6 separate regions of the Homo sapiens genome follow, and all the other regions are reported to be linked to region 6. Evidence: microRNA targets listed by miRTarBase, many of them from high-throughput screens and not tested one by one. Region 6 holds a microRNA gene; each other region holds the end of a gene's coding sequence.

What was found. The annotated mature microRNA hsa-miR-6794-3p reads CUCACUCUCAGUCCCUCCCU and lies in region 6 at 2,281-2,300, opposite strand. An mRNA with a match to its seed (bases 2 to 7 or 8) in the 3' UTR can be bound and repressed. Matches are read on the target gene's strand: a 7mer-m8 pairs with bases 2 to 8, a 7mer-A1 pairs with bases 2 to 7 and ends in A, and an 8mer does both.
Region 1: miRTarBase lists TSC22D3 as a target of hsa-miR-6794-3p. Seed matches in the 3' UTR shown: 8mer at 3,357-3,364.
Region 2: the mRNA of H6PD is a reported target of hsa-miR-6794-3p. Seed matches in the 3' UTR shown: 7mer-m8 at 1,150-1,156, 7mer-m8 at 1,107-1,113 and 7mer-m8 at 289-295.
Region 3: the mRNA of GRK3 is a reported target of hsa-miR-6794-3p. Seed matches in the 3' UTR shown: 8mer at 2,472-2,479 and 8mer at 892-899.
Region 4: miRTarBase lists DGKH as a target of hsa-miR-6794-3p. The part of its 3' UTR that is shown has no 7-base or 8-base seed match.
Region 5: miRTarBase lists ST3GAL1 as a target of hsa-miR-6794-3p. Seed matches in the 3' UTR shown: 7mer-m8 at 1,584-1,590 and 7mer-m8 at 2,494-2,500.

What each region holds. Positions count from the first base shown.
Region 1 is chrX:107,709,979-107,715,066 of GRCh38, forward strand. It overlaps TSC22D3 (TSC22 domain family member 3), which reads right to left. Exons shown (of 3, transcript NM_198057.3): 3 at 3,243-4,771. The coding sequence ends at 4,541. Among named protein-coding and RNA genes, the nearest start is that of TSC22D3, 63 kb to the right of the region's middle.
Region 2 is chr1:9,264,305-9,269,376 of GRCh38, reverse strand. It overlaps H6PD (hexose-6-phosphate dehydrogenase/glucose 1-dehydrogenase), which reads right to left. Exons shown (of 5, transcript NM_004285.4): 5 at 1-5,072. The coding sequence ends at 4,508. Among named protein-coding and RNA genes, the nearest start is that of SPSB1, 26 kb to the left of the region's middle.
Region 3 is chr22:25,721,572-25,726,659 of GRCh38, reverse strand. GRK3 (G protein-coupled receptor kinase 3) reads right to left here. Exons shown (of 21, transcript NM_005160.4): 21 at 1-4,371. The coding sequence ends at 4,210. Among named protein-coding and RNA genes, the nearest start is that of MYO18B, 18 kb to the left of the region's middle.
Region 4 is chr13:42,228,594-42,233,681 of GRCh38, forward strand. It overlaps DGKH (diacylglycerol kinase eta), which reads left to right. Exons shown (of 30, transcript NM_178009.5): 30 at 506-5,088. The coding sequence ends at 595. Among named protein-coding and RNA genes, the nearest start is that of AKAP11, 41 kb to the right of the region's middle.
Region 5 is chr8:133,455,420-133,460,504 of GRCh38, reverse strand. It overlaps ST3GAL1 (ST3 beta-galactoside alpha-2,3-sialyltransferase 1), which reads left to right. Exons shown (of 10, transcript NM_173344.3): 10 at 568-5,085. The coding sequence ends at 741. Among named protein-coding and RNA genes, the nearest start is that of ST3GAL1-DT, 110 kb to the left of the region's middle.
Region 6 is chr19:12,849,518-12,854,605 of GRCh38, reverse strand. It overlaps MIR6794 (microRNA 6794), which reads right to left and starts at 2,346; the gene lies at 2,279-2,346. MAST1 (microtubule associated serine/threonine kinase 1) reads right to left here. Exons shown (of 26, transcript NM_014975.3): 8 at 2,571-2,672; 9 at 2,359-2,491; 10 at 2,211-2,278. RefSeq lists an enhancer at 1,917-2,417.

The sequences.
Region 1 (5,088 bases), not on the chromosome of region 6:
ACTCAGCTAATTTTGTATTTTTAGTAGAGATAGGGTTTCACCATGTTGGCCAGGCTGGTCTCGAACTCCTGACCTCAGGTGATCTGCCCGCCTTGGCCTCCCAAAGTGCTGGGATTGCAGGCGTGAGCCACTGCACCCAGCCAACTTCACAATACCTTAAAGGACAGTGGATCATGCACCTTTTTTCCTATGGTCTTTCTGGAGTCCTTCTGCTGATACTCCAGGTCCCAGAGGCCCTGCCCCTGGCTTCCTTGTCGGAGCCCTCCTGGAACACCCTCCTCTGTGGCCATCCCCAGCTTGAAAGCCTCACACTTTGTGTCCCAAGCAGTCCTTGTCTGGAAATAACCCATCACCCACATTTCTGTTCTAGTCTACTTTTTCTTTAAATTGACAGACACAACTAAAATTGTATGCATTTGTGATGTTTTGAAATATATACACATTGTGGAATGGCTCAATCTAGCTAATTAATATATGCATTGTTGTTTTAGCTTTCAAATCCATGTCTTTGATTTTGTAGTGAATATAATTAATTCCTTTAAGGCCCACTGAATTCACAGCCAGTGTTTGTAATTATGTGTCCTGCCGCCCCCCCCCCGGCCCCGCCCACCCGAGTCTCTCTTTCTCTCTCAATGAATACCAAAAGTTCAAGTACTATAGAGTTGGGGGAGGTTTGAGAATATTTTTGACATAAAAAAAGGGCCCTTATTGTCACTAAGGTTGGGAACCACTGCCCCATGGGACATGTGGGAGCCATGGGAGTAGCACTAAGTTCTCTGGCTCTCAGTTTTCTCGTCTGTCAAATGGAGGTAAATCATAACTGCCTCTTTTTCTAAGGGCAGGAAACAGAATGTTTTGTACTCGGAAGCGGGGCCAGGGAGCAGTGCTCTTGTGATCCTTGCTGCTATGCTGGGAAGCCTCCATGAGGATGAGATGAGAGAATAGATGGGAGGGCACATGCAGAGGTGGCAAAAGCAGGCAGGGGATGCATACTCCTTCAAGCCTCATTATTATTTTCCTCGTTCTGGGTCCAGCTGGACCAGCTGAGCCCAGAAGCCTAAAACCCATGGAAGTCTTTCCAGGAGCAACGTGTTCTTTTGCCTTCCTCCACCCTTAGTCACTTTTCTGTGGAGAAACAACAACAGAAAGCAGCTCCTGTATGTGACTAAGAAACATCTACAAACTTCCTCTTATCTAGCCTAGTAACTGCTGTGGCCTCAGAAGTTGCAGTGTTTGTCTCTGTTTAGTCAGCGTTGCCTAGGAAACAAAGTTGTTCTCTCTTTACCACTATGTGACTGTGGGGCCAGTTTTTTCCCCTTTCTTGTAGAGAAAGGCTTGATGACCAGAGAGGTTTGGGGCGTTGTTGGGCTATTTTCTAGGTTTCCTTTTTTCATCTGCTTTTTCTCATTCAGCTGCAAGTCTGGCATGGGAAGTCTACAGAAGATGAACCAAATAGCCACAAAGTCTCTGAGCTAATTTTGAAAGGTGGGGATTTGGGAGTAAGTGGGGACTGGGAGAGCTGGTCAGGGTGAGGAATGGCTGCCAGGGGGCTTTGAATGCACTCGTTTGAAGTTTGTATCTGTACCAGCAGCTGTGGAATCTGCATGCCATGAACCAGTTGGCAGGTATAGACAATGAACCTGGCATTATGAATAGCAAGGTTGGGAGCAGGTGGGGAAATTGGGATTTGAGAGGCCAGCAAGCAGGAGTTTGCAATGTTCTGAAGGGTTTTGGTGATTAGAAAAGAACAGGTCAGCTGGGTGCAGTGGCGCATGCCTATAATCCCTGCACTCTGGAGGGCCAAGGAGGCAGGTTGCTTGAGTCCAGGAGCTCGAGACCAGCCTGGGCAACATGGCGAAACCTCCATCTCTACTAAAAATACAAAAAAATATATATATTCAGGAGTGGTGGTGCACACCTGTAGCCCCAGCTACTCAGGAGGCTGAGGTGAGGATCATCTGAGCCCAGGGAGTTGAGACTGCAGTGAGCTTTGATGGCCCCACTGCATTCCAGCCTGGGCAACAAGAGTGAGACCCTGTCTCAAAAAAAAAAACCAAAAAAAAAAACCCAAAATGTCAACATGTATGACCTTTACAGAGGAAGAAGCATGTCATTTTGATTACATTTAGGCAGTGGTTGATGTAAGGGGCGGGGGGCAAGATATCTTGGTCACCCTGAGGTTTGTGGCTCAGGAAAATCAAGGAGTTCTGTTTCCCCAATTTCAAGTGGGAAAAGGATAGGTATATATGCTACCAGAAGCTGAGATGGAATGGAGTCACTTGAAGAGAGGTGATCGTTTCCCTTGGGAACATAGTGGGCTTAGAACACAGCTCAGGGTCCAGAGGAAGTTCAGGTTAGGGCGTGGTAAAGGAGACACTAAGCACTCATCAACAACCAATCAGAGAAATGCTAGGTCTCTGGATGCTGGGGACATGGAGCTGGGAAAGGGTGATGGGTGATAATGAACCCCAAAGAGAGGTGGAGGAAGGAATCTGGAGCCAGGAGCCTTAGACTTGGCCCTACCCACGTGGTTGGTGGGTTTGGTGAGAGAACTTTCAGCAGTGTCCCTGAGAACTTTCAGCAGGGACTGAGGATATCTTTCCTTGGCTGGAAGTAAGGGGAAGAGCAAAGGAAAGGGGGGTGGTTTTGCTACCTCATACATTCTCCCTCCTTCTCTTACTAGAGCCTTCTTAGCTCCTTTGCCAAGTCAAGTGTCACATGTGGATTGGTATTAAGGAGAATGCATTAAGTGAGCCCAGTGATGTTTTCAGAAGACAGAAGAGGCCCACGCCTGTTGATTTGGTTCCGCTCTTCTCGCTCCCTCCTATGTATACCCTGCCTGTTTCTTTTGGGCCTTCCTCGGGGTATCTTTCCTCCCAAATCACCCCCTCAAGCTACAGTTGTGTGTTATGAGTCACCTTGCCACTCACTCCGAAGCTCTCATATGAAAGCGGAGCAGGAGAGGGAGGAAGGATCTGGGCTTGAGTCCTAATTCCCGTAATAGCCATGTGACTTTGGGCAAGTCACTTAAACTCGCTGAGTCTCAGTTTCTTTATCCAGACAGTGAGGGCAAACAGCATGTCCTTCATATGAGTATTGTGCAGATGACACGAGATCACGGCTGCAGCATAGGCCTGGCACTGACAGGGTGCTCAAGGGATATTCAGGGGGTCAGCAAAACAGCCCCTACTGGGTGAGGGGCCTCTCCCACCCAGTCCATTTATACTCAGTCAGACACCAAGTTTATTTTTAGAAAAACAGAGCAAAGTTTATTGAAATTTCAAGCTACATTTGGAAAATCAAAATCCAAATCCTGGAACCATACATCAGGATAAGGTGTCAAAAAGTGGAAAGTGTTCACTCTCACAAAACCCGCTACAGACAAGCTTTCTGGGCACACCTCCCAGGCTCCATTGGATCAAAGCCATCCCCTTGTTCATCCCTCATCCACAGTAGGACACCATCCTTCTGTTCACTTGAAAGTTTTCCACAATAATTACAAAACAAAACAAAAAACGTTTTCAAATGACACTGTGAAGCCCAAACTGATCTTCTCTCAACCCCATTCTATGTAGTCAGCACCAGTGAATGGTGGGTTTGGCATTCAAAACAGGACTTCACGTTTCAGTGGACAGCTGGGGAAAGGGTTGCAGCAGCAAGGCATCCGTGGCCGCATTCAGAGGCTGGCCCCCCTCCTTGCCTTTACTCTCGAGTCTTACTTAACCTAAAAGACAAACTGGGTCAACTTGGTAAATGAACACAGTCAAAGACTTAGCCATAAGAGGTAAGGGACCAGTCAATACTCCCAAGGCTGGTTAGGCCCTTCAACATGTAGGTGGATGTGTATATGTATACATCGCTACACTAAGATACAGATCTAGCCCTATGGGTATATATACGCATTTATGGCTATATAGAAAAACTATGCCAATACTAACCAAACAGAACTTTGTAAGCGGTCATCCCAAAGCTGTAATCCCACACTGGGCTGTGCACAAAGCCATGCATTATACCATATTAACCAACAGAAGGCTGACTTGGCTCAATCTCTCCCATCTGTGTCCCCTGCCTTCACGAAACAGAGGAGAAGAGAGAGGTTGCCTCTGCTTAAAACACAAGTGGCTTCTTCATAGGAACAGTCGTTGTCAGGTGAAGCTGTTGAAGATGTCCATGGAGATGAGAAACAGACCCCTTAAACTTTCTGGAGCAAACTGGTGTCACACCTCAAACTACCCTTCTCCTTTGCCAGTTGCAGCTAAGTTGCCCAGGCCCTGGGAGCCCCCAGGGCGCAGTAGCATTAGAGGCTCACTGGCTTGGTGTTACTAGGCCCCATGCAACTCAGCCTCCAGAGACCTGCTCTTGTCAGGGGTCTGTCGCTGGAGTGGACCCAGGTGGCCATGTCCTTAGGACATCTCTTGGCACCAGCTGTGCTAGGTGTAAAGTTCTCCTCGTGAGATGATGCTTGGGGAGCCAAAAACAAACTGGAAAGAACTAGGTAAAACAAGTTTAGTGGCTCTGCCCACCCTGAGGACAGAGCCACTTACACCGCAGAACCACCAGGGGCCTCGGGCACTTGTGGGGATTCGGGAGCTGGCTCTTCAGGGCTCAGACAGGACTGGAACTTCTCCAGCTGCTCTGGGCTTGCCAGGGTCTTCAACAGGGTGTTCTCACGCTCTAGCTGGGAGTTCTTCTCCACCAGCTCTCGGATCTGCTCCTTCAGGATCTCCACCTCCTCTCTCACAGCATACATCAGATGATTCTTCACCAGATCCTGCCAATGAGGGAATCATAACAAAGCCATTCCTTAGCCATCGTGGCCCCTCTGCAGCACCTTTGCTCTGTCATTGGTGTGCCTGTGCTGTCCTTAATGCCAGGGCCCTCCAGCCTTCCCTCAGTGAACTGGTCTGGCAAGTCCAATTCCTCGTTCACCTTTCTCTGAAGCACTTAAACCCTCATTCAGGAGAGCTACATGATTTGGCTTATGCTGGAGTTGAGAGCCCAGCTTTGAACTAGATAGGTTCTCCCCTGCAAGTTTCTAATGACTTTCAAAGCTGGCTGCTGAGGGGCCTTTGGGGTGACACTTCTGCT
Region 2 (5,072 bases), not on the chromosome of region 6:
TGGTGAGGCTGGAAGAACTTCCTTCCTTCCTATGTACAATGCAAACAGTGCCGCTTCCAGTGCTACCCACACGGGTGCAGCCTCACGGGAGAGTTGCGGAGAGAGGGAATGCGTTCAGTTCAGCCAGCGGACGGCCAGGGGTAAGCGGCCCCTAGTGGGTCACATGGCCTATGATGTCTGGAGACCGCAGATCTTCACCCTCTGGAGTCTCATTTGCAGAGTCTCATTTGTCGTCCGGTCACTGTGGCCACCTCACCCTCGTCACCACGGGCCTTTCCTGTGCCGTGCTCACTCTGACACTGAGATGCTGCCAGGCAGTTTTTTTTTTTTAAATCAGTGGAGTAAGTTCTAAGGGAGCCCCATGTGCTTAAGATAAAAACGTAGCTGGTAAAGTGGAGGCAGAGGCTGCTTCTGTGAGGCTGCATATATCTTACAGGACAAAAAGTTTTGTACTTGAAAACCAAATTCTGGGAAATAGCCCTGCAGGTTTTTGGGAAGCGTCTCCCTCCCTGTCGTGAGTTCCACCTGGGCCCTCCGGGAGAACAGGGACAGGAGAAACACAAGCAAAGCAGACAGGCCCGGAATTGGGAGCCTGAGCCCTGCATATTTTGGAAGGGAACCCCTCGAGGGACTAGTCTGGAATAGTAGGCCAAACGGTAGGAAGCTTTGATTACTCTGCTAACTTGGGGGCCCAAGAGTAGGGCTAAAGCATTGTCTGCAGAGAAACAAACAGGGAAATTCAGTAAGAAGGGCCTATTTTAACTTGCAGTTAGCAGGAGAATTTGTCCCCAGATTTTGATCTAGCTTAAAGTCCCTTGATTCCTTCCCCTCTACAAATGGCAATCACGGTTGCCCTAGAGATGCTGACTGACAAGGTCTCCCAAAGGAGGGGCCCTTCTGCCATTTATGGGCCCCTAAGTGCACACGTGGGCTTCCATGCGGATGGAATCATTGGTCCCCACCAGGGAACCTGGACTGTGGGAGCTGCCGCCACCATAGGACCCAAGGGCTTCCAGACCAGGAAGAGGCAAACAGCCTGCCTGGGAACACAGTGCTGGAACTTGGGACTTGGGTTCTGAGCGGGGCTGCTCCCTGGGCTGTTGTCATCACTCTTTCCTTTTTTTTTTTTTTTTTTTTTGAGATAGGGTCTCACTCTGTTTTCCAGGCTAGAGAGCAATAGTGCAATCACACCTTACTGCAGCCTCAGTCTCCTGGGCTCAGGTGATCCTCCCACCTCAGACTCCCGAGTAGCTGGGACCACAGGAGGGCACCACCATACCTGGTTTTAAAACTTTTTGTAGAGATGGGGTCTCACTATGTTGCCCAGGCTGGTTTCAACCTTCTGGGCTCAAGTGATCCTCTCACCTCAGCCTCCCATAGTGCTGGGATTACAGGCATGAGCCACACCTAGCCCAATTTAGTGAATTTTAAGAAGCATTTTAAAAAAATGAAAACTAAAACATAGAGGATATCCGAGGTTCTAAGGTTAAGAATTTCTTTATGAAACCTGCTTGGAACACAGTTGTAAACAAATGGACTGATTTATGATGGAAGGCACGTTTCTTGCTGCAGATCATGGTCTGAAGTTTGAAAGCCACCAGCCTAGAGGGTTCTGAAAACTTCTCCTTCCTAACACAGCTGAAGGAAAAGGGGTGGGTAGGGGCGGAGGCACAGGGACATCTCCAGGTTTGGACTTTTCCAACATGATTTGCAGAAGGCACTTGATTCTGGAAAGTAGACCTTTGGCATTTCGACCCTCACCCACACTCCCACACCCACTCTGCACAGATCGGTGGTGCATCCGAGGCAGGGCTGAGTTAGAACAGGACATCCTAGACTCGGCGGCAGTGACTATTATTCAGAAATGGCACATCAAGGGCCGGCCTGCCCTTCATCCTGCAGGGGTACTTGGGCATGTGGAGGCCCCTTTCTCCCTGGTGTTGCAACTGGAGAGGAGTCGGTTCCTGAAGAACAGATGGGAGAGTGCTGGGGCCAGGTACCCTGGGAGAGAGGAGGGAAATGAAATCCGGCACAGGGGCTGCGGGGATAGGGGCAGTCAGGAGGCGGCAGTGCGGTGCAAGGGCCCCCCCACGCGGCCAGCTGTGGAACTTCCACCACGACTCCCTGTCCTCTCCTGAGCCCGCCCATCACGTGTAGAAGCTCAGATGCTGGGCGCCAGGAGGGCGGCTTCCTGGCTCTGGGCACCGTGGTTCTGTCCTAACGAGGGGCGCTCTCTGGGTGTAAAAACAGATGTTCTGGCTGGGCGCGGTGGCTCACGCCTGTAATCCCAGCACTTTGGGAGGCTGAGGTGGGTAGACTGCCTGAGCTCAGGAGTTCGAGACCAGCCTGGGCAACATGGTGAAACCCTGTCTCTACTAAAATACAAAAATTAGACAGGCATGCTGGCCGGCGCCTGTAGTCGCAGCTACTCGGGAGGCTTAGGCACGAGAATTGCCTGAACCCGGGAGGTGGAGGTTGTAGTGAGCCAAGATCTCGCCACTGGGCTCCAGCCTGGGCGACAGAGACTCTGTCTCAAAAAAAAAAAAAAGAGATGCTCTGTCTGGCCTGGGTTGTTGTTGGTGGCCAGAGTAAGTGGTGTGAACAAGAGCCCCGGCTTGGGAACATGTCTCAGACTGGCATTGAAAATGAAAGCCAGGATTCCTCTAAATCCACCGCCTTGAAGTGTAAACAGTCCAGAGAGAAACCGACTTTGCCATGCTCCCTCACCCAAGAAAGCCCTCTCTCAAAATGCGCTAGAAAGTTTATATCTGCCTGATCCAGAGAGCAAGTGGAAGGTGCGGAGAAGCCAGACAGAAAAATCGACCTTAACCAAGAGTTCCATCTCCCAGCCTTAAGTTGTGGGATACTGAACAAACAAAACTACACATGTCCTGGGAATTTTGCTTTGTGGTGTTTTTAAAAAGAATGTCAGAGCCCTCCTTGGGGGCTTCAGAAAAGCAGGTATTGCTGGCCCATGGCTTCTCAAGATCACAGTCCCCAACCTATGCTCACTGAGAAGATACCCGCTTACTTCCCCAGTCTCAGGCAGAGAGTTCGTGGTGAAGTGATAAGTAGCAGGAGAGGCCAGCAGACAGGAAGCCACGGGGTCACCAAGGGGCAGGGAGAGAAGGCCTGGCTGCGGCCCCGTCACCCGCCAAGCGAGCCCCTGAAAAGGCTGTGGGCAGCCCCCCTGCCAGTGAGGCCTAGCTCCTGTCTGGTGGGAGCAGAGCCGCCTGGATGGCCCAGTGTCACTCGATGCTCCATCTCTCTCCCCGCTAATGAGCTGTCACCTCAGTGGGTGATTTAACTGGATCTTTCCTGGTAAAACAAGAGGGGCTATTGAGAGCGGAAACACCCATCCGGGAGTCCCCTGAGATGGAAATGACCCTCTTAAATTGGGGATCTCTGGAATGTCCTGATTATCTGCACCCAGTGTGCTTCCTGGAGGAAGGCTAGCAGGACAGAGGAGCAGCGGAGGGCAGGGGTCCTCCCTGAGGAAGTTGGGGGAATGAGACCCCACCTCCCCACGCAGAGCAAGTCATCAAATGAGAAATGGAGCTCCAAACAGCACTGAGATTTCTGGGGCTGGGCGCAGTAGCTCACACCTGTAATCCCAGCACTCTGGGAGGCTGAGATGGGAGGATCGCTTGAGCCCAGGAGTTTGAGACCAGCCTGGGCAACATAGCAAGAGCTCATCTCTGCAAATATTTTTTTTAATTAAAAAAGAAAAAAGATTTCTGGAACCCTTTCCACAGTCTAGTCTTTGCCACTGTATTCCTGTTATCAGCCCTCATTCTCTATAAATGGAGTCTGAAGAACAGCAAAGACACAGGGAGGAGCCTGGAATTCCTACTGCACAGCCAGGATGGAGGAGACAGGGATGGCAAGCGGGAGCAGGTGGAGGCAGTGAAGAGGAGGGCCAGAGGCTAGATGTGCAGAGGTTCTAGAAGGAGGGGCAGCTGGGGAAGGAGGGGCTTGACCCCCTCAGGGTCTCAAGACAGTCCCCAATGCCCCTGCTTTGCACGGGGCAATGTACTCCCCTGGGCGCCTCTGCACCCTTCTGTCTACCAATCATGCTCTGAATGTTCCCCGGGAGCCAGTTCAAGGATCACCTCCCCCAGGAAACCTTCCCTGATTAACCTCAGCCCACCACGTCACGTCTCCTCTTGTGAACGCCGGAGTTTGGGCGCCATCCCGTGTTGTGCTGGTTGATATGAATGTGTAACTGCTGGAGGTCTTTTCTTAAGACTTCTCTCCTGGCCTGAATTTGAAGCTTCTCAGGAGCAGACTCCATTTCTTCCTTGTTTCTGCATCTATCCACCAATACACAGAGCTGCCGGTCAAAGGCATCGGGACAAGGCTTGTCCTGCCCTCTCTGGGGCCTGACTGTGGGATAGAAGGTTCTGGAGAGCCAGGGCACGCTGGGCAGGTGGCGGGGCCGAGAAGGGAGGGAAGACACGGGCGAAGGAAAGCACAGGAGCGAAGCGGGCAAGGGGCACAGGCGCCCTCATCCCAGGAAGGCGTCGTAGTCCATGTACCACACCAGCTGGCCGGAGTGCGGCAGGACACCCGAGATGGGCCACTTCTTGGGCTCATGGCCCACCCGGCTCACCAGCGTGGTGATCTCACGCTTCATCCTGCCCATGACCAGGACTGCCACCTTCTTGGCGCGGTTGATGAGAGGCAGGCTAAGGCTCATGCGGCGGTGTGGCTGGGAGGGGCTCGTGGTCAGCACGACCAGCTGCTCGCCATCCAGGCCAGTGGGTGACTGTGGGAAGAGGGAGGCTGTGTGCCCGTCGGCACCCATGCCCAGCAGCACCAGGTCGAAGCTGCTGTTGGCCACCAGGGCTGAGATCTCCCTGGCATAGATCTGGGCGCCCTGGTCCTCCTCGGCGCAGAGCCGCTGCTGCAGGTGCACAGGCATGGGGTGGATGTTGTAGTAGGGGATCCGGACGTGCTGCAGCAGGTGGGCCTGCAGGCCCTGGAAGTTGGACTCCGGGTCTGAGAGTGGGACGCAGCGCTCGTCAACCAGCCACAGGTGCGTGTGGGCCCAGGGGAAGCCATAGTGCGCC
Region 3 (5,088 bases), not on the chromosome of region 6:
TCCTTGGTGCTTTATGGTGTAATGATTTTTACCAGTAACTTCTTTCTTCCTTCGCCCGATTTCTACCACTATTCTCTTTGTGACACCCAGCCCAGCCCCCACCTGTCACAGATCCCAGTGAAGCCCAAATCATCTCCCAACAAGTCAACCCCTCACTCAGGGTGGGAGGTGTTAATTCATCAAGCATCTCTGAATGACACAGAAACATTTCCCTGAACGTAACTGAGACAACACTGCATATGATTAAATCATACAAGATAACTCTTATCTTACACCAGCACATTTCAAAGCATTTCTATAGGTTTACATCATGCTAAAGAGGCCAGACTTTGAGAACGTTGTTTTCTTCTTGATATGTTAAAATTCTGAAACATTAGAAAAATCAATTCCACTGAAAAGTAAAATGTGTTGAATTGGCCCAGCTACAAATTCCGAGTGAAATTTTAAAAAGCAGAGAAAAACCACACTTTGATCTTTTTAATCTAGTTAAATCCCTGTCGTCAATTGGTAAACATTACTTTGTAGATGACCAGTGTGGCCTTCAAACAGTCGTTTCTAATATCTGTATATGGCATATGTCAGACCAGAAATCAAGCTACATCTTGTTTGCAACAAACAGACCATTGTTTGTTGCTGCTGCTGTCTTCAGCAAAATGCTTCCTTTCCTCAGTGCATCTCACTGGATATTTAGCCCCCCTCCTTTTTTTTTTTGAGACAGAGTCTCGCTCTGTCGCCCAGGCTGGAGTGCAGTGGCGCAATCTCGGCTCACTGCAAGCTCTGCCTCCCGGGTTCATGCCATTCTCCTGCCTCAGCCTCCCAAGTAGCTGGGACTACAGGCGCCCGCCACCACGCCCGGCTAATTTTTATTTGTATTTTTAGTAGAGACGGGGTTTCACTCTGCTAACCAGGATGGTCTCAATCTCCTGACCTCGTGAACCGCCCCTCTCGGCCTCCCAAAGTGCTGGGATTATAGGCGTGAGCCATCGTGCCCGGCCAGCCCCTTCTTTTTAAACATAGGACCTGAAATTGTCACGTCAGTGAATGGACCAATCAGAGGCATGAGCACTTTGCATGAATGGTGACATAATAAGCTGACTTCTAGAAGTTTTGTTGAAAAATCATACTTAAATATGACAAAGAAGGAAAACCAATGAGCCCCCATGACATGAGGGGATGAATGAACCAAAGAGAATGTTTTAGGTTAAAAATAATAAACCTGAATTCACAAAGGTTTTTAATTTATTCCATATATATCTTACATAGCAGCTTAAAGTAATCTATTATTTTTAGGCTTTATTGATTCTTTTGAATCATGAAATCAAGACTTATTACCGCATGATTTTGTAAAAATATCAACCTCAATTATTTTTCTCATCAATGTTAAAATATCCCAACCACAGGAATCTAAAATAATGAAAAAAAATAGGCTGAATTTTGACCTTTTTAATAGTTGGAGTGTAATAAGGGTGAACATCTAGGAATTATGTAATACTTGGAAAACCTTCTAAAACATCCAAGTACTATGGCTGGGCATGGTGGCTTACATCTCTAATTCCAGCATTTTGGGAGGCCAAGGAAGGAGGATCACTTGAGCCTAAGAGTTCAAGACCCCATCTCTACCCAAAAAATAAATTAGCCAGGAAAGGTGGCATGCACCTGTAGTCCTAGCTACTCAGGAGGCTGACGTGGGAGGATTGCTTGAACCTAGGAATTCAAGGCTGCAGTGAGCCATGATCATCCCACTGTTCTCCAGCCTGGGTGACAGAGCGAGGCCCTATCCCAAAAAATTAAAAAATTAAAAAAAAACAACAGCCAAGTATACCATGATGTTTAATCCAACTGACTTTTCCTCTGGCCATGCAGGCAACCGGGTGCAGACACAGCGGTATCCTGTGTCTGGTCGCAGAAACACCTCCATCACAACATTTTGGCAGAAGGCACTCAAACCAGACCCCAACACAACTGGTGACCGCCCTCAGAAACAGCTCAATCTAGTCTTACAAAGCACTTTTAATAAATGACATCTAGATGTACTTCTCAACCATATCATTACAAATCAAATGTGAGTTGGGGAAGTGTAAAAGTTTACACTTTTGTTTGAAGCAAAAGGACTTTCAGAGCATTTTCCAATTCATATATCTTTTCTAAAAGGGAGTGGAGCCTTATGTTCTATTCTTAGAGCAGAAATTCTAGTTTTTGAAAGAGATGCGGATCAGCTCAATTTTAGAACAAGTATGGGAAAGTTGAATAATCTTTCTGAACACGTTTGTGCAGCTCACGCCCTAGGTACGAGATATTAGACGCTAAGCCCAGACCCTGGTGGAGTCAACAGCAGGCCCTTTATCCTGGAGATCTAGAACAGGCATGAGGCCCAGCGCATCCTCAACTGCACATGCTGAGAACCTATGAGCTTGAGATGCAGACGGGAACGGCATCAGTCACAGCTATAATTAACCAGGGCTGGGAAGACATTCACTCTTTAAGAACAATGGCTTTTCTGCTTCTGGAGTGTGTGTGTGTGTGTGTGTGTGTGTGTGTGTGTGTTTCAACAGAATTTGAATACTATTCTTCCTTTTTAAATAAGGAGAATGCATGTAAGTAGTACATCCCTCCTCCCACACTGGAAATAACAGATAGTAGAAAATGTATGTTAATTTAAACCCCAACTAGTAGTTGAGATAGACAAAAAAAAAAACCCACATTTTTTTTTTTGCAAAGTAACTCTTATGAAATAATGGACCCTTTTGGTAATTATCTTCCAAACTCTCAAAATAACTGCATTAAAAAGTACTTACTTTGCCCATGAACACAGCAAACAAATACAAAAACAAAGATTTGGAACTGCTAAAAATATCAAGGACAGGATGCAGACAATTACGATGTCAAGTTATTTATACTGTTAGTAGTTAATGTAAAGACATACACTAAAACTACTCCAAGAATGGGACAAATACGTGGATTTGTAAAATTTTTTTTTTAAGACTGATGACATGGGGGATTTCGCTGGTTCTCATAACCCAGCATCTATTTGGGGGTATCAGTGGGGCCTGGAGGCAGTGGGAGAAAACAAACTTCACAGGGCAGATGCTGCTGGGACCAGGAAAAAGGCTTCATGCCCTAAGGTCCTCACTGTCGTACAGCCCAGTGCAAAGTATCATTCATTCATGACAGATGCATGACGACATGAAAGTCAATATACACAGTTAACCCATTTTGACACATTCATTCCTCAGCATTTTTTCAATACAATTCATCTGAAATTATACTAAGACATAAAACAGACCTGCTTTTGTACATCCATTACTGATATGTCTCCCAGGGTCAGGCAGAAGGAACCAGAATGACTGTCACACAACTGCTAATTGTCGAGACCTGAGACGGACTCACCCATGAGTGCTCCTGCATGCCAGGTACTGCTTGTCGACTCGTGCACACTGGACTCAAAGACTTTTGAAAACTGCTCTTGCCCCTGAAACCTAAAACTCCACGGCCTGTCCTTCAGAATCACTGTAAATCTTTCCAATGATGGACGGATGAATGCCTTCAATGATTAGTTAATCCCATACACTTGGATAGTACGTGTCCGTCATTCCCACCTGGCTGAGGGGGCCCCGGAACAGACTGGTCAGAGGCAGGGCAGTCATGTGGGTGCGGCTCCCAGAGGAGGGCCCAAGTGCAGAAATATCTTCAACTTTTAATATCATCAGAAAATATCTTCAACTTTTAACCCCAGGACAAGAAGTCAGTTGCGAAGTGCACAAAAGAAACACACTGTGGCTCTCCCATCCCCCAGCAGTATGGAGCAAAGACATAGAAAATCAGCAGTGACTAGACAGAATATGTGGCAATGCTTAGGGCAATCTGTTACCCAACACTGAACATCTTTAAATTCCATTCTGGGGAGTCTAAGATGTGTTTGATATCAGACATAAAAATTTACGTGATAAGTAGGAGTCACTTCAAGTTCTAGGTTCATAGGTACCAAAGTGTGTAGCAAAGAAAAAGAACTTTTATTTCTTCAGTAGTTTCTAATGCAGACAAATGTGACAAGGCAGGGAGCTGAGCTGACCCCAAGCCGAAGGGTCCCGACTCCTCTCGGGAGCCTGGAGGAGTCCCGGTAGCGAATAGATCAGATGCCTCATCCTCGTTCACCCCAAAAGGCTGAGACCCTGGTGTGTCCTCCTCGAGGACCCTCCCTGTTTCTGGGTGCTAGAGGCCGTTGCTGTTTCTGTGACAGAGGGATGGCTTTGGGAGCTCCACAGTACCTGACCGAGGTTTGTTGAGGAACTTCGGGGCACGACGCAATAGCCGCTGGGCCTCCTTGAAGGTTTCGTTCAACTCTTTCTTCCACTGCACAAACTCTGGATCACTCTGAGGGGGAATACAAAGGCAGCCGTTGTGACAGGCTCACCCATTTTGCCAACAGCGGAGGCTGCCCCTATTGATTACCAGCGTCCCTGGAACCCCTGAAGGAAGCACACCCTACGTGTCCACCCCCAGTGGCATTACTAGCTGATGGGTCACGCTGCCACCTTCTCCAGAATCTCTTGAAAAGAGCAGGGAAAGGCCACATTAAAACCCTTCAGATGATTCCAGTACAATCCCACTCTGAGAATCACTGCCTTTAATTTGTTTAGAGATTACTTTTGATTTCTAAAACAACTGAAATCTATAATAATATAGGGGAAGGAGTTTTGACAAATTAAAAAATGTTTTAAATATATATTCATGTATGTAATGTAGTACTGATGTTAGTAAAAATGATTTTTTTGCATCTAATACGTGTTTATTTCTCTAAATATGCTCTCTTAAAACACACACACTAGTGAACCAGTCACAAAGTGTCCAGGAATGAAATTTGTGTTACAATGTAACTTTGAGGAAAAGATGGCATTTTCGTTTAGAGAAGATGGCATTTCAGTTTGCCGTCTTATATTTATCTAAATATATAAACCTTAACATCGAACATGCCGAAAAATCTTCAAAGTTATAGAACAAATAAAATTCCAGCCCTATTAAATACTGAGCAGATTTTCCAGATAGAGTAATGACATTATTTCACCTGCATCCTCCTGCCATTTTCTAATA
Region 4 (5,088 bases), not on the chromosome of region 6:
GAGCCTTTGAGAGAGAGAGAGAGAGAGGGAGAGAGAGAAGAAAAAGAAAGAAAAGAAAGAAAGAAGAAAGGGAGAGAAAGAAAGAGAAAAGAAAGAGAGAGAGATGAAATAAAGAAAGAAAGAAAGAAAAGAAAGAAAGAGAAAGAAAGAAACTAAATTGGTTTTGACTTTTGAAGTCAAAAGCCACTGTGTATAATTATGAGAATGTCACAGTTAAGAGTTTATGTAGAATGTGATTTTTTTTTGTACCAGTTGGGAATTCTTTGGTGTCAGGTTATTTTTGTTTTATGAACTTATTTTTCTAGCTTTCACTTCCTGAATCACTGAATATAAACTAAAATGAATGAACTGAATGCTAATTATGTTTCTTGCTGGTTAAATATTTAATCCCCAATTTTCTATTTTCAATAAACTTTTTTCCTTTTCTTTCATTTTTAAAATTTTCTTTCTGTGTTTTTTCTTTCATTTTTAATTATTTCTACCTTTTTCTGTTCTTTTATTTTAGGATCTGGGGATACCGAAAGTGGGTCATGTGAAGCGAATTCTCCAGGGAATTAAAGAGCTTGGAAGGAGCACTCCACAGTCGGAGGTGTAATCATATTGGTGCTATTTCTTGGAAGAGAAGTTATTGCCACTTAATACAAAGTCCTTGGAAGCAAGTGGCTGTTCTTGTAGTTTTCTGCATAGATAAGTAAGCACCACTGAAGCACCTCTGTGGCTTGATATTTTGCTGTGGGTGAAATTTTGATTTGAGGTATTAGAAAATATTTTTGTGCCGAACAATACATTCCACAAAGCCATTTTCTTTTTGTGCAAACCTGACATGTTCAAATATATTCACAATGGTAATAAGGTAGGAGGAATCTGAGACGATTGCATTGTCTAAACAGTGGAATTGCAAAATGTTTACTTTCCATAGATCTGGTCTGATGGAATGTTCCTACTGTGCAACTGCATAACAATATGTGGTTAAAACTTCCTAGGTTTCATTACGGGGGGGCATTGGCCATTTTCTTAAAATCATAGGTTAGGAGACTAAAATATAAATTAAGTTGTGATTTGAATGTAGATTGGTATCACCTCCAACTCCTAGTGCTTAGTGGTCAAATATGTTGAAAACCTTTCCAATACTATGAATGAATGCAAATCTTAATGCACGATGTTCCTGCCTGAAATGTCTTTCTTTTTCTTGCATGTCACATCTAATACTGTAACACTTTAAATAGCTTTCATGTCAGTTTTAATGTTAATGGGATTTAATTTATTACTAAAGTACATTTTTGTTGGTTAAGGGCACTGCACTTTTCTGTTTTTTAATGTGGGATTTTGCGTAAATATTCTGTACCTAAGACTTTGTGAAAGTGTGTCTGTGCCATAATCAACAAATGATATACATCACATGCAAGTCAATTTTATTTCAATCTATCATAAGCAGTAGGCGTGCACGTTAAGAAAATTCTCTGGATATTTTCATAAAATTACATGCTCCCTTACCTGACAAAACTTGTTACAGCTTTCCAAACCAAAATTTCCACATTTTGTTTCTAATTTTTAATTTCAATTTAATAATTATTTAATATTCTATTTGAATTTATAATATAGTAAAGTGTTGATATCCAGGAATTCCCTGAGGTGTCAACTGAGATTTATATACTGACAGATAACCCAGACTCACCCGCTCTCTACAGTGACTTCTGACACGATCTTCCAAACAGAAGGGATTTAAATTTTTTCTTAAGGGCTTTATGTTGTTATTATTATTATCTCACTTAATTCTTAATTCTTATCAGGTGGATATTATTTTCCTTTTTCTAAACCACTGTACTTCAGTGTAGCTTATTATTAGAAGTCAACATTACAATGATCAAATCTTTGAAAGCCAAAGGCATACGTATCAAAAAGTCACAAAAATATCCTTAAATAAGCTTTCTTTAGCCATTATATACCAAAACATTAATTATAATATTTTAAAATTTGTATATAAGAGAAATAAACAGGGTACTGACTCAGTGGTGACAATTTTTATGAAGTAGCCTGCTAGGTGCTTAATAGATATATATACACACAGATATATACATATACACATATATGTGTATATATACATACATACACATATACATTTATATGTGTATATATATACCTACATACATATAACCTTGTGATATGGCATCATTGATATTTTCTAGACAATTATTTCCCCAGTGTTTAAAGAGAAATACTAATAGGCGAGCATTTAAAATGAACTATTGTCAGGCATATTATTTAATTACATCAAAGGAGTTTAACTGTTTGACACTTTACTCTTGTTTATAACTTGGGTATTTAACTACTAGTAAAAATCACAAAATTTTAATGTCTTTAAAATAAATGACCCTGAGGGATTCCTGACCAAGTATGTCTGACTATATATTTTACCTAAGTTGTAAATAAATGGAAATTTTCCAAAGACAGTTATATCAAGTAGTTTAAAAAGTCATGAGGCAGGGTGCTGTGGCTCACGCCTGTAATCCCAGCACTTCGGGAGGTTTAGGTGGGTAGATCACCGGAGGTCAGGAGTTCGAGACCAGCCTGACCAGTGTATGAAACCCCATCTCTACTAAAAATACAAAAATTAGCCGGGTGTGGTGGCACGCACCTGTAATCCCAGCTACTCGGGAGGCTGAGGCAGGAGAATTGCTTGAACCCAGGAGATGGAGGTTGCAGTGACTGAGATCACACCACTGCACTCTACTAGCCTGGGTGACAGAGCAAGACTCCCATCTCAATCTCAAAAAAAAATAGTCATGAATTATGCAATTATTCTAATTGTATCTGCACTTACGAAGTCAGAGGTCTCCTTTTTCAGTCCCTCTGATAGTCCCACCTAAGTGCTGTCCTGCTCCTGTGAACACTTTCCTGTGCAACCAAACAGGAGGTGCCAGGTTCCCAGAACTCTCTAACATTACAGATCTCTGTCCATCTTTACTAAAAAAAGGAAATGTGAGGGAAAGAAGGGGAAGAACTCTAGCATAAATAATGTATTAATATAAATATCTATATTGATTTTCACCCCCCATTCCCCTTTGCTAATAGAAAAGAGTCTAGCTATGATGTGTCCCAAATTTAAGAGTGTGATGTGAAGGACTGAATTTTTGTTTGTTCGTTTGGTGAGCTTTTCACTCGTAGGTGACATCTTTTGTATATGCTGTAAAGTCTCAGTTAATGGAATCCTACAGTGCATTTCTGGCTAGCTCGGTTGGTAGAGCGTGAGTCTCTTAATGGAATCCTTAATTAGCTAGAATTTTCCTGCAAATGGCTTTGGATGAGGGAAATTCTATAAAATGACAATTTGGATATACTTTTTGTTAAATGAGAGCAATTTTCTCTGTATGCTTTGTCTATGCATGGCTGTGCAGGGCCCAAATGACTTCACTGACACCTGTTTCCAGGAGGGGGTCTTCAGAGCCTCCTTAGGCTCTTGTCAGTATCATAAATAATTCCTCTTCTTATAGCGGATGGGGTTACCAAAAAAAATAAAAAGTAGGGAAGAGCTTCTCCATGGGATCAGATCACAGCTTTGGGGAGTGGGATGGGGCCTCTATGCTTTGATCTATGCATGAGCTGGGGTGAGAAGTTCCCACCTGCACCTGACTGCAATGACTGTAATGGCTGGAATTGTCACCTCTTCTCCCTGATAGGCTCTTCCTCACCTGGAGGATCGGGGCTGGTGGGAGGGCAGGGAAGGGGAGGCCATCAGCCAGAATGTATTTTCTTTCAGTTCCATTTCCTGAGGAAGAACTTGCTTTTAAAGGAGGAAAGGGACAGAATCAGACCTAAATAAAATTCCTGAGTATGCAATATTTCTCTTTAGTGTCTCTTCACCTCCCTTTCTGAGTTTCTTTCCTACATCCTGGCTCTTCATTTTCCCAATGCCCAATATAATCATGGTTGCTGAAATTCTCACTGCCTTCTACTTTCCTTTCCCCATCAATTAACCCACTACAAAATGACCCCTTTCATTTCTCGCTTAAGCATACATGGTGGGTCATTTAACTAAGTGTTAGGAAGAAAACAATTTAAAGACACTAATTTTACAGTTTGCGTTCTGTAAAAGGATACTTGCTGGATAATCTAAGTGAATTGATGGATTAGGTCATTTGGGATTGTGATATATATTGTTCTTGCTGACAAGAAATGACCCATGAATGTCTAGATCTATCCTGTCCAATATTGTAGCTACATGTGGCTATCTAAATTTAAATGTAATTTAATTAAGCCAGGCATAATGGCACAAGCCTGTAATTCCGGTGACTCAGGAGGCTTAGGAGGGAAGATGGCTTCAGGCCAGGAGTTTGAGACCAGCCTCGGCAACATAGTGAGACCCTGTCTCTGAAAAAAAATTTTTTTAACTAGCTAGGCATGGTGGCATGCGCCTGTAGTCCCAGCTATTCTGAAGGCTGAGGTGGGAGGATTGCTTGAGACCAGGAGTTCAAGGCTGCAGTGAGCCATGATCATGCTACTGCCCTCCAGCCTGGGCAGCAGAGCAAGACCCCTACTCTTTAAAAAAATTAATTTAATTAGAAACTCCATTTCTCAGTTGCACTAACTACATTTCAAGTGTTCAGTAACCATAGTGGACAGTGCAGATGTAGAAAATTTCCATCACTGCAAAAATTCTATTGGACAGCACTGGTGCAGATCATTGCTACTCAAAATGTGATCCATGGGCCAGCAGCATCAATATTACCTGGGAGCTTACAGAAATGCAGAATTTCAGGCCCACTGCAGATCTACCGAATCAAAATCTTCCTTTAGCAAAATTTCTCAAACGATTAGCACTGGCCTACATCCATTTTATCCTTCCTTAGCTATTAGGGATGTGAGGTCCGAGGGCTTCAAAAGGTCCCCGGAATAGCTTGTTCCTTCATCCACTGTGTCCTATTCATTCTTCAGCTAACTCCAGCAATGAGCTGAAACTCATTCATCACCCTTGCTGAGTTTTCTTCTCAATCCTTATTCCTAATTCTGGTTCTAGATGAGCCCTACCTACCCAGTGGTTGTATTTTTGTAGCCAGTGTGGGACACAGGAGATTGGCAGACCAACACAGC
Region 5 (5,085 bases), not on the chromosome of region 6:
AGGGCGCCTGGACCAGATGAATGTTGGCCACAGAGAAGAAAGGGATCAGCCCTGCCCTCTGCCTCACTGCAATCATGATTCTTGGACCCATTTTCCAGATGAGGAAAGTGAGGCTCAAAGAAGTGACTTCACATGCCCAGGGCACCACGGAGTGGCAGAGCTGGGATTTGGGGCAGTTTGCTTGGCCCCAAAGCCCTGCTCTCCTTCCACTCTCTTCCATTCCACGCCCTCCTTCCTATTCCTTCCCTCTGTAGCTCCTCAATCCTGGGAGAATAGGTTGCACTTGCTGCAGAGGTAAGACCCGGGCCCCTGAGACCACCCAGATGCAGTAATCTCTCAGGGTGCTTCTGGAATTAGACTTGAGTTTTACTTAACTTGCATTTGCTTCACCAAGACTCTGAGAGTTCCAGGAACGTAGAGAAGGGTTTTTAATGAAGGGTTAGTCAGAGTCCTTGGAAATGCTGTTTATGGTCCTGTGGGATTCCAGGAACGCCTACAGGCTTCCTTTCTCAGAGGTGCCACCAGCAGCCCTGCTGTCTGGTTCTCATCTTTGCTTTGCTCCCACAGGTGGACTTGTACGGCTTCGGGGCAGACAGCAAAGGGAACTGGCACCACTACTGGGAGAACAACCCATCCGCGGGGGCTTTTCGCAAGACGGGGGTGCACGATGCAGACTTTGAGTCTAACGTGACGGCCACCTTGGCCTCCATCAATAAAATCCGGATCTTCAAGGGGAGATGACGCAGTGAAGGGCTGAGGATGGACGCACTGTCACACCTCTGCATTTCCAGCCCCAGCATCTTGCTGGAGCCGTTCCATCCCGGAGCTTGGAGGGGCAGCCTCAGGTGTGTGCCTGGGCACCGCTCACAGCCTCTTGCACCCAGCCGTTGGCAGCATCTACTCAGCAAGGTCACTAAGCTCTGCCAGCGTGGCAGAGCATGTCTTGGAACCTGTCTTGAGTGGGGACAACGTCCCCCCACTGCTGCCCTAGAGCTGGGGAGACGCTGGGAAAGGTTCAACCTCCACACACTAAAATCATTTTGGCTCCTGGGGCAAGCTTGGGGAATGAATGTGGAAGATGCCTATATTCTGAGAGACAGGACAGTTTCCCAGGAAGATGGGCAGAGACTTGAGTGGCGATTACCTCCAGCACAGAGACGTGCCAGGCGGTGTTGGCGCTCGGGGCGAGATGCTGCCCTTCTTTGCACGAAGCCTGGCCTCTTGCTTGGCGTGATAACCCTGTCATCTTCCCAAAGCTCATTTATGAGCCACCAGAGGCTCCTACCCCAAAGATTTTCACAGAAACTTGAGGCCAGGTGCCGTGGCTCACACCTGTAATCTGAACACTTTGGGAGGCCGAGGCGGGAGGATCACTTGAGCCCAGGAGTTCAAGACCAGCCTGGGCAACATAGTGAGACTCCTGTCTCTACAAAAATAAAAGATTTAAAAAAATTAGCCAGGCACGGTGGCACACACTTGTAGCCCCAGCTACTAGGGAGGCTGAGGAGGGAGGATCTCTTGTGCCTAGGAGTTCGAGGCTGCAGTGGGCTGTGATCACACCACTGCACTCCAGCCTGGGCAACAGAGTGAGACCCTGTCTCTGAAAAAAAAAAAAAAAGAAAAGAAAAAAAACCCCAAACTTGGCACCGTGTTTCTGACTCCTGCAGATGCCTCTTCCCAAGCAGTTGTTCCTTTGAGTAGTCAGTCTCATGGTTCTAATCGTGGCGAGAGCGGATCTGACCACTTCCATGTGCCTTTGTATTTGGGAAAGAAAAGCATGCATTGGCTGAAATGAAACAAAAGCCCTTACTTGGGAAAAGGGACCCCCACCAGCGGCCCTGCTTGCTCCGTAGCTGGGAACATCTTTTCTGGTTTCCTGAGCCAGCACCTGAATTGCAACGAAGCTCTGAGGATACTCAACACCACCCAGCAGTGCGTCAGAATGGAACGTACATTCTCATTCTCAGACTGTTCAATATGGTGCCCGTAACCTCCAAAGCCACACAGGAGGCTGCCAGCAGCATTTTCCCCAAGGGCCTGAGCTCAGGGTCAAGTCCCTGCTGGCCATCTTGGGGCTGTCACTGGGGGTCTGGGTCAAGGACATCCCAGGAATGGTAACTGCCACATACCTCATCTTCTTACTCCCCAGCTACTCTCTTTTCCTCATTAGCCTTCCTGATTATTTATTGATTTCTTTTTTTTATTCAACTGACATTGTTTGCACCCTGGCTCTGTTGGTGGTCCTGGTGTTTTAATGAAGCTTGCCTCACCCAGTAGCTGGGAAATTAGGTGGGGGTGCTTAAGGGAGGTTTGTAGGAGTCCTCGGACGTGGGATATTGGGGGTATCTAGGGCTTGGATGGTTTGTGGAATGTCCTCAGCATCCTCCCGTCCCAACCCAACCTTCCTTCTTCCTCATTGTGGACTTGGATTTATTCTCAGGCTAGGAGTCTCCAAAACTCCGTGAAACCTTATTGCTGCTGGGTGTGGAGTGGAGAGTGACAGGAATGTGGGGGACGGTGATTGTTGGCTCCAGTTACTAATGTTTAAGCAGAAAAACCACTTTCTTGTTGAAAATATCCCTGAAAAGGTCGCTGCTGCTTTGAGGAGGCGTGACTTTTTCCTGGTGGAGTGTGACGGAGGCATGGGGCCTGTGCTCCCAGGCTCGGGGGAGCCCCCTCTGCACACGGGGAGGGAGGAACTTGGGGACATCAGTCATGGGTCACAGGTGGCTTCAGGCCATTCACAAGAGTCCCCGGAAGTTGCGTGCCAAGTTTGGTTTTTTCCCTGAATCTCTGCATATGAGCATTTTTCTGGAGAAAGGACCATAGCTTTTATTAGATTCTCAAAGGTTCAGAATGGGGAATGTGTTAAACAAACCGAAAACCTGTTTCAGCTTTAAAATCCTCCAAAACTTTAAAGACTTTTCTTTTTTCTGAGAAAGGCTGGTAAATCACTGAGTCATCATTCAGAACATACAGCCTCGAAGGGCAGAGCTCACACCCATATATGACGTTAAGAGCTCAACAAATGTTTGTTGAGTGACTGAGTGACCCCAGGGGCAGACTCCAGATCATCAGACACTGATACAGAGAGCGATGCTATCTCCTCAACTCTCCCTCTTCTCCTAAAAGCTGAGTCTATATAGGGATGACAGGCTCAGGCTGAGCAGTCGACTTCTCTGGGTTTTGCTGTGTAAGAATAGGTCCCTCAACATGAAGATGTGTCTGCGTCTGAGCCAGATGCTGCCTGGGTCGGTTGCCTGGCCTCCGTCTGGTCTCCCTCCCTCCTACTAGGGTGGTCAAGCTGTGAGATCTCTTCCAGCCTCCAAATCCAGCTTTCCCATTTTACTGATGAGAAAATCAAGGCCACATTGCAGCTGGGTGGGGAGTGGAGCGTGACAGGCACGGGAGAGGACAGCGATTGTTGACTCTAGTTCCTGATGTTTAATCAGAAAAACCACTTTTCCTGTAGAGCACATTTCCTAAAAGGCTGCTGCTGTGTAGGGAGGTGTGGCCTTTTCCTGGTGCAGTGTGAAGGAGGGAAGTGACGGGCAGTCGTGAACTGTCTGGGACAGATAGCACAAGTCAGAGTTTGAGCAAAACTAGGGTGTTACCGGCGCTATGTTGAAATTGTCTGGAGGCGGGCTTTCCCAGCGAGTCTCCATTCAGCATCTGGAAAAAGTGTAACCAGAATGGAGGTGTCTGACTCTCCTGTGCTCTCTCAGCGCCGAGCTCTAGCTGCAGGCTGCCTGGGTGGCCTTCTCACACCCTCCCGTGCAGGAGACTGCATTTCTCTTTCCCACAGCCCAGCAGATAGCTCATTGGCTTAGCAATGGGCACTTAACAGAATCCAGTTGTTGCAGCCAGAATTAAATGCACCAGTCTGGCTTAAACCAACTGGAACTCATCCCTGGGGTGAAGGTGGCTGGGAATTAGACAAGAGTGTGTGTTAGCCAAAAGGCACATGCATGCTGTCAGCAGGAGAATGAGGAGCACTGGTTCTGGGCAGGCAGTGGCAGGGGCTCCCTCAGGCCCCTGATTCCCAGCCCACAGCTCTTTCTACTCTGCAGACAGAGTTCCTTGGAGACTGGCCCTGCATTCAGGCAGGGAGCAGAGGGGTCCCTGCCTGCAGCACCCAGAGCTGAACCTGAAGCTACAAAGATGGGCTGATGAGGTGGCCCATGAGGTGTCAGCAACATCCCAACCCCCTGGGTCTCCCCAGTGAGTCAGGGCACTGATTTGCTATAGCTGGAGCTACATGCACCTCTCCTCCCCTCAGCCACCTTTTAGGGGAGAAAGGAGGGCAGATTTGTAACCTCTGGTTCTCTGCAGGGATCCTGGGCTGGAAGAAAGTTCATAAATGGATGAATGCCTTTTAAAACTCCAGCTTTTCCAAGCATCATTCACCAAAGCATTTGGTTAGGCTTAGAGAGAAAAGCTGGATATGAGAAAATAGAATGTAAAATAGGAGGGAAAAAAAAAAAGAAGGTGGAGAGGGCAGTTAAGATCTGGGTGATTCTTTAGGGAAACGGCTGGTTGAGAGGCTTTGATGGAATCCCATTCTCTGCTGTGGCCAGAAGGTGGTGCTAGAGGCCAGTCCCACTTGGATGTGACCCTGGCCTCTGCCAGGATTCAAACCACAAAGAACATTTGGAACTGGGATGTTTGCTTTGAAGCAGCCCGAAAACAAGTGAAAGGAAACCAAGATAACTCTCTCTCCCTCCGCTGGCAAGGATCAAAAATACCTTGTGCAGGGAAGCCCGAGCCTCGAGGGGCCACTGCCCAGCTAAAGATGACTGGACACCAGCCATGCACCATCAGGAACCAGCACCTGTCCTCACCCCTGAGAAGAGCCCCGGGGGTATCATTATATCCATCGCAGACATCTGGTTTGCAGCAAATGTGGCTACACGCCATCAGGATTATCCTGCCCTGTGGACTGGGCTAGCTAGTTTTGAGATAGAGTCAACCTCCCCATTTTTGTTTGTCATGAAAACACCAGCTCCTGCACCCCTGGGGTGCTACCTGACACCTGTGCAAAGAAAAGGAGGAAAACTTAGAAGAAAAGGCAGAGACAGGCAAGAC
Region 6 (5,088 bases):
AATGTTCACCAGTGGATGAATGCATCTACCATTCAATGGAATATTACTCGGCTATAAAAATGAATGAAGCAGTGACACAAGCTACAACATGGATAAACCTCAGAAACGTTATGTTAAGTGAAATAAGCCAGTCATAAGAGGCCACAGAGCATACGATCCCATTTATAGGAAATATCCAGAAAAAGGCCAGGCATGTGGCTCACGCCTGTAATCGCAGCACTTTGGGAGGCCAAGGCAGGCAGATCACCTGAGGTCAGGAGTTCGAGACCAGCCTGACCAACATGGTGAAACCCTGTCTTTACTAAAAATACAAAATTAGCCAGGTGTGGTGGCGCATGCCTATAATCCCAGCTACTCAGGAGGCTGAGGGAGGAGAATTGCTTGAACCTGGGAGGCGGAGGTTGCAGTGAGCCGAGATCACGCCATTGCACTCCAGCCTGGGCAACAAGAGTGAAATTCTGTCTCAAAAAAAAAAAAAAAAAGAAATATCCAGAAAAAGCAATTCCACAGAGAGAGAAAATAGATTAGTGGTTGCCAGGGACTGCAGGGAGGGAGGAATGAGGAGGGAGTGTGTAATGGGTGTGAGGTTTCCCTTTGGGGGTGATAAAAAAGTTCTGCAACTACATAGATCTAATGGCTGTACAGCATGGTGAATTACTAAATGCTGCAGAATTGTTTATTTATTACTATTAATCATTATTATTATTATTATTATTATTATTATTATTATTATTTTGAGACAGAGTCTCGCTCTGTTGCCCAGGCTGGAGTGCAGTGGTGGGATCTTGGCTCACACCAACCTCCACCTCCCGGGTTCAAGCAATTCTCCTGCCTCAGCCTTCCAAGTAGCTGGGATTACAGGCATGTGCCACCACGCCCAACTAATTTTTTTGTATTTTTAGTGGAAATGGGGTTTCACCATGTTGGCCAGGCTGGTTTCGAATTCCTGACCTCAAGTGATCCACCCATCTTGGCCTCCCAAAGTACTAGGATTACATGCATAAGCCATTGCACCTGGCCTATTCTTTATTATTTTTAATTTCATTTTTCAAGACAGGGTCTCACCCTGTTGCCCAGGCTGGAGTGCAGTGGTGTGATCATGGCTTACTGAAGCCTTGACTTCCTGGGCTCATAGGATCCTCCCACCTCAGCCTCCCGAGTAGCTGGGACTACAGGGGTGCACCACCACGCCCAGCTGATTTTTTATGCTGCCCAGGCTGGTCTCAAATGCCTTAGCACAAACAATCCTCCTGCCTTGGCCTCCCAAAGTGCTGGGATTACAGGCCTAAGCCACTGCACCCGGCCCCGAATTGTTCATTTTAAAATGGTTAAAAAGGCCGGGCGCGGTGGCTCATGCCTGTAATCCCAGCACTTTGGGAGGCCGAGATGGGCAGATCAACTGAGATTGGGAGTTTGCAACCAGCCTGACCAACATGGAGAAATTTTAGTCTCTACTAAAAATACAAAATTAGCCGGGTGTGGTGTTACATGCCTGTAATCCCAGCTACTCGGGAGGCTGAGGCAGGAGAATTGCTTGAACCCAGGAGATGGAGGTTGTGGTGAGCTGAGATAGTGCCATTGCACTCCAGCCTGGGCAACAAGAGCAAAACTCCATCTCAAAAAATAAATAAATAAATAAATAAAAATAAAATAAAATGGTTAAAAAAGTAAATTAAATTTTATGTTTCATGGATTTTAACATGACAAAGAGGTCACAGGGGAAGAGCAATTATTTTATTTTATTTTATTTTATTTTTTGAGACAGTTTCGCTCTTGTTGCCCAGGCTGGAGTGCAGTGGTGTAATCTCAGTTCACAGCAATCTCTGCCTCCTGGATTCAAGTGATTCTTCTGCCTCAGCCTCACAAGTAGCTGGGATTAGAGGCATGTGCCACCAGGCTTGGCTAATTTTTGCATTTTTTTTTTTTTTAAGTAGAAACGGGGTTTCTCCATGTTGGTTAGGCTGGTCTCGAACTCCCGACCTCAGGTGATCTGCCCACCTTGGCCTCCCAAAGTGCTGGGATTACAGGCATGAGCCAGCATGCCAGGCTCTGGAAGAGCTATTATTAATCCCATTTTATGGATGGGAAAACTGAGGCTCAGAGTGTAGGACCAAGAGATCCACAAAGCCTGAGGGCAAAGAAGCCGGAGATGAGCCCCACCCTGCCCTCCCAGGAACCAGGGTACTGACCGCTTAGCCACCCAGCCTTACCTCAGAGAGATCGTCTTGCTCAGGGGTGTTGGAACCACCACTGTCCTGTTCCTCCAGATGCACCACATCTAGGGAGGGACTGAGAGTGAGCACGAGCTGGGTTCTGGGCCTGCTCACCCCCAGTCCCCCTGCGCCCACCAGCCGGCACCTGGAAAGGGGTCACGGGTGAGGCCCAGCTGGCGGATGATGTAGCGGGGGATGTCCGTCTTCACAAGGTGGCCCTCCTTGGCGTGTCCTTCGGCCGCCTCCAGCAGGTGGTAGAACTCCTCGGGGTTGAATTCCTGAGGCAGGGCAGGAGTGGGCTCACCACAGGCTCCCAGGGTCTACCAACCCACCCCTACCCATGCCCAGCCCCCTCACCAGGCACTCCAGCAGCCTCGCAGGGCGTGAGATGATAATAAGCAACTTCTTCACCAGCTGAGTAACGAAGGCCACCTCCAAGCTCTCAGAGCGTTCATAGGCCTGTGGCAGGGGACACAGAGGGACAGGGCTCATAGGCACTCTGCCTCAGCCCGGCCCCTCTCTCAGCCCCTCAGAGTACATACTGCTGCTACTGTCCCATCTTACAGGTGAGGAGACTGAAGCCCAAGCCACACAGTAAAAATAATGAGGCTGGGCACGGTGGCTCATGCCTGTAATCCCAGCACTTTGGGAGGCTGAGGTGGGTGGATCACTTGAGGTCAAAAGTTTGAAACCAGCCTGGCCAACATGGTGAAACCCCATCTCCACTAAAAACGCAAAATGAGCCAGGCGTGGTGGCAGGTGCCTGTAATCCCAGCTACTTGGGAGGCTGAAGCAGGAGAATCCCTTGAACCTGGGAGGCAGAAGTTGCAGTGAGCCAAGATCACACCACTGCACTCCAGCCTGGGTGACACAGCGAGACTCTGTCTCAAAACAAAAGCAATGACAAACAAACAAACAAACAACAAAACCATAGCGAGACCCTGTCTCTACAAATAATAAAATTAGCCAGGTGTGGTAGTGTGTGCCTGTAGTCCTAGCTACCTGGGAGGCTGAAGTGGGAGAATTACTTGAGCCCAGGGGGCTAAGGCTGCAGTGAGCTGATTATACCACTGCACTCCTGCCTGGGTGACAGAGAGAGAGACCCTGTCTCAAAAAAAAAAAAAGAAAAAAAGAAAAGAAAAAGAGGCCGGGCACAGTGGCTCACGCCTGTAATCCCAGCATTTTGGGAGGCAGAGGAGGGTGAATTACTTGAGGTCAGGGGTTTGAGACCAGCCTGCCCAACATGGCAAAACCCCATCTCTACTGGAAGTACAAAAATTAGCTGGGTATAGTGCCACACACTTGTAATGCCAGCTACTTGGGAGGCTGAGGCAAGAGAATCGCTTGAACCAGGGAGGTGGAGGTTGCAGTGAGCCGAGATCACATCACTACACTCCAGCCTGGGTAGCAGAGTGAGACTGTCTCAAAAAAAAAAAAAAAGAAAAGAAAAAACTAATATCTTATTGCAATACTTGAAAAGCCTAAAATTAATGCCAAAAATCTATCATAAGCCAAAATATCAAAATTTAAGCCAGATGTGGTGGTACATGCCTATAATCCCAGCTACTCAGGAGGCTGAGGCAGGAGGATTGCTTGAGCCCAGGAGTTCAAGACCACCCTGGGCAACATAGAGAGTCCTCCATCTCAAATGAAAAAGAAAAAGAAAAAGAAAATTAAATAAAGACAGAATCCAACAGGCTGTGCCTAGCCATATTGTAACTTGAGCCAAAAAAAAGTATGCACCAACCTATATGTGTTTTAATGTGTCTTTGAAAATGTCTAATGGTTTCAATGAAAATAGTATTATTGATGAGTTTGCTTTCATTAAAACCAGGACAGTAAAATTATAACACATTCTGGCTTGGTTATAAATAAAATATGTAAACTTAAAATAATGTTGGGTTTTCATTTATCTACTTTTCAAGTTTTTCAAAAATTAATTTAATGTTCTGGGGGAAGAAATAATTACTTGCTTTACCCTGGTCCTGGTCTCAGCCCTAATACCTATTGGGTCTTTGTTTGTTTGACTTGTTTTACTGTAGAGACAGGGTCTCGCTATGTTACCCAGGCTGGTCTGCAACTCCTGGGCTCCAGAAAGCCTCCTGTCTCAGCTCCCCAAAGTGCTGGGATTACAGGGGTTAGCTTCTAACGCCTATTGTTTATCTTCTGTCTCTTCCTGCTATTAATAGAATGTCAGCTCTCCAAAGACAAGAATTTTTGTTTTATTTCCAGTTGATTTCCCAGCTTTTAGGCTAGTGCCAGGCCCATAGTAGGTGCTTAATAAATATTGGTGGGGGCCAGGCATGGTGGCTCACACCTGTAATCCCAGCACTTTGGGAGGCAGAGGCAGGTGGATCACCTAAGGTCAGGAGTTAGAGACCAGCCTGGCCAACATGGTGAAACCCTGCCTCGACTAAAAATACAAAAATTAGCCAGGCATGGTGGTGGGTGCCTGTGATCCCAGCTACTCGGGAGGCTGAGGCAGGAGAATGGCTTGAACCTGAGAGGTGGAGGTTGCAGTGAGCCAAAATCGCACCACTGCACTCCAGCCCAGTGGGATAGAGTGAGACTCTGTCTCCAAAAAAAATAAAATAAATAAATAAATAAATATTGGTGGAATTAATGAATGATCAAGTGATCCTCCTGCCTCAGCCTCTCAAGTAGCTGGGACAGCAGGTGTGTGCCACTACACCTAGCTAATTATTTTTATTTTTATTTTTATTTTTTTTGAGACAGAATCTCACTCTGTTGCCCAGGCTGGAGTGCAGTGGCGCAACCTCGGCTCACTGCAACCACTGCCTCCCGGATTCAAGCGATTCTCCTGCTTCAGCCTCCTGAGTAGCTGGGATTACAGGCACGTGCCACCAAGCCCGGC